Linked DNA regions of Homo sapiens. The protein of the gene in region 1 purifies or fractionates together with the protein of each later gene. This does not show direct contact. Each region holds a gene or a part of one and is shown on either strand. Other genes may lie near its edges.

Region 1 (3,824 bases):
CAAAAGCATCATCAATTTTCATACTCTTTGCAGTATTTTTCTCCCTGTGAACAAGTCCTTTGCATCTAGTGGACTTGCATGCTCTGACTGACCATGGAGTCATGGCCAAACTTGTGACAGGAGCAGGTGTTCCACAAGCCTCTCCAGTCTCAATTGGCAGTTCCACCAAGTGCAGGGTGGAAGCCTGTATAGGCTCCACCTCTCCTATGGAGCCTCTCCTATGGCAAGCCTCTCCTATGAGGAATAGATGCTGCTGGAAGGAACAAGACAAAGATGTTTACAACATTCCTAATCACCATTTCCTGCATCTAACTGCATGTTTTCCGGGTTGCTAGGCTGAAGAAGTTCTGCAGAAATATTTAAAGTCCAAGGAGTCTGTGAGTCATGCAATATTACAGACTGACCAGGCTCTCACAGAGACGGAAAAAAAGAAGAAAGGTGAGAAGAAAGTGGAAATTATGCAAGATAGAAAGAAATCTATAAATTTTAAATAAATTTGGCCTGGCCCTCATGGGATGTTAAACTAGAGCAAGAATGGCAAAGATGCTTCTTAGCTCCTCAAGCATATCTGACTGGCATGATCCTGCATTGTGGTTACCTGGAAGGGAAAAACAACCCCTGGGAATTTTATCCAGGAAGTTGGAACAATCACAAACAAAAGTGGGAGGCAGAAGGAAGAGGCACATTAATCCTAGAGAAGATTATCTTTTTCTCCTCAGAGGCACAAGTGAAAGCAGAAGCTGAAAAGGCTGAAGCGCAAAGGTTGGCGGCGATTCAAAGGCAGAACGAGCAAATGATGCAGGAGAGGGAGAGACTCCATCAGGAACAAGTGAGACAAATGGAGATAGCCAAACAAAATTGGCTGGCAGAGCAACAGAAAATGCAGGAACAACAGATGCAGGTATTCATCAATTGTTTCATCTCTCCCCTGCCTGTAACGATGAGAGTATGTAGCAGTGGCAAAGAGGGAGAGGCAGCAAGATCTTGTGGCTCTCAGCAGGGAGTCTGGAGCCAGAAAGTCTGGGTATGAATCCAAGCTCCACCTCTTAGTAAGTATATGGTTTAGGCAAGTTATCTATCACCTCTGTGCCTAATTTTCCTCTTGTGTAAAATGGACACAGTGATGATATCTATGTTATAGGGTTATTTTGATAATTAAATGAGTTAATATTTGTGTTTAAATGGTGCCCGATACAGAGTAAGCACTATATGTTGTTAAATAAAAACCAAGGCATTTCTGGGCTGCAGTAACTGGTCTTTCCTGTTGACTTGTTAATTGTCCTGGATGATCTTTTGCTTTGGTCATAGATACTTTGTTAATCTGATTTCATGTTACTGTGTCTATGCCCCTGTTCTTGCCTTGATCATCTCTGTTCTGAAGGCCTTTAATTTGCCAGTTTGTTTCATCCGGTCCTTTACTTTTATTTACCAATCACTGTCAGTAGTTACCAAGCACTCTCCAGTAGTTATTATTTATCAGTCACTGTCATAGCACTTTACATGCATTATCTCATCTAATCCATTCACTGTAAAGCAGAACTACTGTGTCCTCATTTTTCAGATGAGATAAGTGGGGTTTCAAAGAGATAATCAATGCAAATATCACACAAGCCTAGCACATTAACAAAACTGCCTTCCAAATGAGTGGAATCTGCAGTGTTTTTGCTTCTTCAGACCTGGTGTAAAATTCCTATGTCAGCACCCTAATGAGACAAATGACATCCTAATTCTTCCCCTTGGCTTGCCAGTTTGTAGGTACTAGTTTTTCAGAAGTTACTCTAAAATATTTCTGATTGCAGCTCCTTCCTAAAGAGCAGTATGAGCAGCATGTGGTTATTTATGTATTCACTCTTTTCTCCTACTTCTGTGGTGACCTGGAACAAATTCTCTTATGTATGTAAAGATTGGACAGCCCACCTGATTCCGATGTCACTTAGATACACTGTTTTTGTATCAGCCTCTTCTCTTAGAAATATATCTGAGAGTCTCCTGTGTGTGTATGAGAATTGAAGTCAAGATGTGACTAAGATTGCCCAAGGAGATCGTGTGGTTTAAGGGGGAAGGGAGCTTTGGTTTGGAATCCTAGGGACACCAATATTCCAGGGATGAGAAATGACCATTTCTGGAGCTAGAGAAAGACAAGGAGGGTGAATAATTACAGAAATAGGTTAGATGCACGTGAATGGAAGAGAGATATTCAGGAACTGTTTACTGCTACTGTAGATGAAAAGAAGTAAGGACAAGTGAGTGATTTAGGCAATCAGTAAGAAGCTTGATCTTACTTTCTATTTATCACTCTTTAGGAACAGGCTGCACAGCTCAGCACAACATTCCAAGCTCAAAATAGAAGCCTTCTCAGTGAGCTCCAGCACGCCCAGAGGACTGTTAATAACGATGATCCATGTGTTTTACTCTAAAGTGCTAAATATGGGAGTTTCCTTTTTTTACTCTTTGTCACTGATGACACAACAGAAAAGAAACTGTAGACCTTGGGACAATCAACATTTAAATAAACTTTATAATTATTTTTTCAAACTTTCATATAGAGTTATAAGATTATGATGCTGGTATCTGGTAAAATGTACATCCCAGTAGTCCAATAGTTTAAATGTTTATTGCTTCCTTTAAGAGATTATAAATTGTATAAGGGACATTGTATCACTGCCTTCATTTATGCGTGATATTGGGATGGTTTCATCAGGAGATGCTTTCCTTGCATCTCAATGTCATCTGTCTAATTTCTCATAAGGGGATTATGTTACCTAGAGCAGGGCTTCCCAACCCTCAGGCCATAGACTAGCTCTGATCTGTGGCCTCTTAGGAACCCGGCCACACAGCAGGAGGTGAGCAGCAGGTAAGTGAGCATTACAGCCTGAGCTCCACCTCCTGTCAGATCAGCAGTGACATTAGATTCTCACAGGAGTGGGAACCCTATTGTGAACTGTGCATGCAAAAGATCTAGGTTGTGTGATCCTTGTGGAACAATATAAACCAGAAACCAATAACGCCACCCCACCTCCAACCCCCGCCAACCCTCTGTGGAAAAATTACCTTCCACGAAACTGGTCCCTGATGCCAAATAGGTTGGGGGACCGCTGACCTAGAGGGAGTTATGCACATGGGCTTATAAGGTTAGCCAAGAGAAAGGACAAGAAGACCCAAAGTCGGCAAGCAAATTTATTAACCTGCTGGGCTGCTCTACAGAAATCTGAGGAGGCAGACACCGGGCTTACAGGCTAAGGGGTATAAGTAGGTCTGCAGGGGTTTTGTGTGTGTGTGCGGGGGTGTCGGGGGGGCAAGGCCATTTGTGGAGACTTTTCCTCCCAGTATGGCCACATCCTGCAGTTTGTCAGTTTTTGCCCCCGCCTGGCTCAGGGTACCAGGATGTGGTTTAGCTTAGGGGTGGTTATAGTGGCACCTAAGTTCTGGGAACTTGCGGTGGGGGCGACCTTTTGGACGAAAAATAAGCTGCAGGGCAGCTAGGGGAGGGGGCTTGTTATATTCCTCTGGGGGCAGGGTGTCCCTAACTGGGCTCAGTCGGAAGGAACTTGACCAAAGTCTGGGCTCAGTTGGGCATCACTCAGGCTAATGGTCGTGTGCTGGATGCCATCAGAGGGAAGTACCAATGGTAAAGTGGAAACAATGTGCAGCTTTCAACTGGGTGGAGGCTGCTATTCTGTGGACAGTGAGATGTTTCCTTGGCACTGTCAATAGACAATCTGCGTAGAGAAATTCCAAGCTGAAAGCCAATAATGTTATAATAAAATAGAGATTCTTCAGAAGATGAAAGGAATTACCAGCATGGAAATTGTGTCATAGGCTTA
Region 2 (3,824 bases), on another chromosome or scaffold:
TTATTTTTAGATTAGCAATGTTATCCAAGTTTTATTGCACAAGGTCTCACATATAGAAGGTGATTAATAAAGACTTTTTTTTTTCAGATGGAGTTTCATTCTTGTCGCCCAGACTGGCGTGCAGTGGTGTGATCTTGGCTCACTGCAACCTCAGCCTCCCAGGTTCAAGCGATTCTCCTGCCTCAGCCTCTCAAGTAGCTGGGACTACAGGCGCCCACCCCCCATTCCACCCACCTGCCCCCACCACACCTGGCTAATTTTTTTTGTATTTTTAGTAGAGGTGGGGTTTCACCATGTTGGCCAGCCTGGTCTTGAACTCCTGACCTCAGGTGATCGGTCCACCTCAGCCTCCCAAAACATTGGAATTACAGGCATGAGCCACCGTGCCCGGCCTAATAACACTTTTCAATATACAAATGCATGTATGTTCGGGAGCCACATTGCTGAGATGCCATTCTGCCTCCACCCCTTACTCTAGCTGGGTGATGTGGAGAGGTTACTTAACCTCCTCCTGCTTCTCTTTCCTCATCTATAAAAAGCATAAGTGTTCTTAGATTACTACATTGTGTGAGAGTTAAGTGATTTGGCATATATAAGTGCTCATTACATAGTATCTAGCATCCTTTTATTCAGAGCCACAGAGAGTCCACACTGTCCCCTGGTGCCATACCGTGTAAACGCACATGCACACTATGCCCTTCCACCAAGGCTGCACAGGTAAAGCCTGGATGTTTCCCCTGCACCTGCTTTCCTAGTGCCCACGCACAGACATGATGATCTCTGTGTTCTCCTCACCTCCCCTCGAATCGGGTCTGGGCTGCCCACCACGGCTGACTCCGCCACCGCTGGGTGCTCCACCAAAGCGCTTTCAACCTCTGCAGGCCCGATGCGATACCTGGAGGATGAAGGGTTCTGAGGCAGATGCCAGGGCTGGGGTGAACCAAGTCCCCAGATCTCCTGCTTTGGAGTCACAGCTTCCTTTGGCACAGAGGGTGGAGGTCATAGGAAGCCAGGGACCCCTGACTTGTCTGTGTCATGGGCCCAAAGTGTAAAGACCTGGACATTATAGGCTGAGAAATACAAGACTGCGGTGCTCCCGGCTTCTTGCCTCACTGCCTGTACTGATGGAGGACGGCTAATGTTTTGTCTCCTCAGAGCTTGGCCCAAGCAGCTTCCCCCAACACGAAATCTCTTGGAAGCCTCAAACTTGGTCTTAAACATTCATGCAAATTCTGCATACTATTTCCCATTGTATCAGCAGGATTTTCGGCTTTTATTATATATACTTAAGGCTTACAACATGATGTTTTGATGTACATATACATAGTAACGCGATTAAAACACTCAAGCACACTAGCATATCCATCGTCTCACATAATTGCCTTTTTTTTCTTTTGTGGTAAGAACATAAAATCTACTCTTTGTGCAAATTTCCAGTACATCATGTTTTAGAAATTTAAAATAAAATCCCATCCAGGCTGGGCATGGTGGCTCACACCTGTAATTTTAGCACTGTGGGAGGCTGAAACAGGGGGATCAATGGAGGTCAGGAGTTCAAGACCAGGCTGGCCAAGATGGTGAAACCCCATCTCTACTAAAAGTATAAAAATTAGCTGGACATGCTCACTTGAAGCCAGGAAGCAGAGCTTGCAGTGAACCAAGATCAGGCCACTGCACTCCAGCCTGGGTGACAGTGGGAGACTCTGTCTCAGAAAAATAAAATAAAATAAAATAAAATAAAAAATAAAATAAAAAAATAAAAATGCCATCAATTTCTCTAAAATATCCAAGGGAAATTGTTACTGTAGTGTAATGCGCCTTTTTAAAAATCATGTAGGGGTAGGGACAGGGACTCAGAGCCAGACTACCTCAGTTCAAATCTGGATTGCATCCTGTGCTATCTTTGAATCTTTAGGCAAATTTCCTTGCCGGTCAGTGACCCACTTTCCTCGTTAGTAAAATAGGGATAATAATCACATCTCCCATCCAGCTTTGAGAGGTGGGTTATATAAAGCATTAAGGACAGTGTTTTCACATAGTAAGTACTCCAGGTTAGCTAAATAGTTACAGTAAATAATATATTTATACTAATAAATAATTTTATAATAATAGATTTATTATGCTCATAGATGTATAACAAATATATTCATAATAATAAAAATAAACAATAGCTAAAGGTTAGCTATTATTATTACTATGTTTGTCCTGTGACATTTGGTGCTGCATTAGAGGGGCACAAACATGAAATAGGCTCCCTGAACCTATGGAGACCAAGACAGAGTCTCCCTTCTCAATTCCACTCCCCCCACCCCACTGTAAATTGCACAGTGTCTTATTATGGCTCCTCTTCCAGACCCTCTTGAATTTCATTTTGCTTGATTCTTCTGCGTGCAGAGAAGGTTCGGGAGGTATACTGAAGCCTGGAATCAGGGCACCATAGACACGGCTCTATTCAGATTTAGGCTGAAATTTCACCAATGCGTGAAAAAATGTCTAGGTAAGCAAAATTCCGTGAGGCATGTGACGGCAACAACAGCCAGCCCAGCATCAGCCACACCTACCCAGAGGCATTAATGATGTCATCACTCCTCCCCAGGAAACAAATGTAGCCCTCTTCATCCATCTTACCTCTGTCCCCAGTGTTGTAGAAGTCCCCACATTCCACTTTAGCTGTCTTCTCTGGGTCACCCTGCAAAAAGAAGAGAGCTCCTTTGTTGAAGGCAGTGAATTTAGAGGTGATGAGCCACAACCTTGGGTTCCAATCTGGGTTTGAATTCTGCCTCTGTTTCTACTCGGTACCTGGGCAAGTTTTGCCATTTCTGAGTCTATTTTCATTACATGTAGCGCATGATGCATGCGACTGCTCTATGAGTGGTTGTGATTAAACCAATTTCAATGACAATGTTTAAAAATATCAATTCTGCCACGTGCGGTGGCTCACGCCTGTAATCCCAACACTTTGGGAGGCTGAGGTGGGTGGATCATGAGGTCAGGAGTTCAAGGCCAGCCTGCCCAACATAGTGAAACCCCATCTCTACTAAAAATACAAAAATTAGCTGGGCATGGTGGTGCATGCCTGTAATCCCAGCTACTGGGGAGGCTGAGGCAGGAGAATCGCTTGAACCTGGGAGGTGGAGGTTGCAGTGAGCCAAGATCGCGCCACTGCAATCCAGCTTGGGCAACAGAGTGAGACTTCATCTCTCTCTCTCTCTCTCTCTCTCTCTCTCTCTCTGTATGTATACATATATATATATATATATATATATATATATATATATATATATATATATATATATTCATTTTGTGTGACACTACACTAGAATGAAATTTCCATTATGGTGTGAACCTTGCTTACTGCTATAAGCTCAGCATTCACATAGAGCCTGGACAGATGAGAGGGGTCAATAAACATTTGCTGAGGGAATTTTCTTCCCTAAATACTATCTCATTTCATCCTCACAGAAAGCCTATGAGTCTAGTATGTTTTTAAGTTAACTTTTCATTTTAAGACAAATGTGGATGGCATGTAGTTATAAAAAATAATGTGGATCGATGCCCTGTACTCTTCACTAGTTTTCCACAGTGGTACCATCTTGCAAAACCATATGATCAGTATCTTAGGCAGAATACTGACCTTGATACAATCCACCAGTCTTCAGATGTCCCATTTCACTTGTGTGTCTGTGTATTTAGTTGTATGCAGTTTTATCACATATGTAGGTTTGTGCATTCCCCACCTCATCAGGAAGATCTCTGATGGTGCTCTTTTATAACCACACCCACCTCCCTCTCATTTCCTCTTCCTCTCCTCTCACCTTCCCTGA

What was found.
Region 2: the proteins of GBP5 (region 1) and ACSM1 purify together in Homo sapiens (affinity purification with mass spectrometry; 2 studies listed by BioGRID and IntAct, with this or other methods). This does not show direct contact.

What each region holds. Positions count from the first base shown.
Region 1 is NC_000001.11:89,259,297-89,263,120, reverse strand, and holds part of GBP5 (guanylate-binding protein 5), read left to right. Parts: intron 1-335; coding exon 336-438; intron 439-719; coding exon 720-901; intron 902-2,303; coding exon 2,304-2,417; 3' UTR 2,418-3,824.
Region 2 is NC_000016.10:20,624,628-20,628,451, forward strand, and holds part of ACSM1 (acyl-coenzyme A synthetase ACSM1, mitochondrial), read right to left. Parts: intron 2,690-3,824; coding exon 2,562-2,689; intron 2,464-2,561; coding exon of another isoform or gene 2,449-2,463; exon of another isoform or gene 2,096-2,448; intron 896-2,095; coding exon 796-895; intron 1-795. UniProt on the Homo sapiens protein: Catalyzes the activation of fatty acids by CoA to produce an acyl-CoA, the first step in fatty acid metabolism.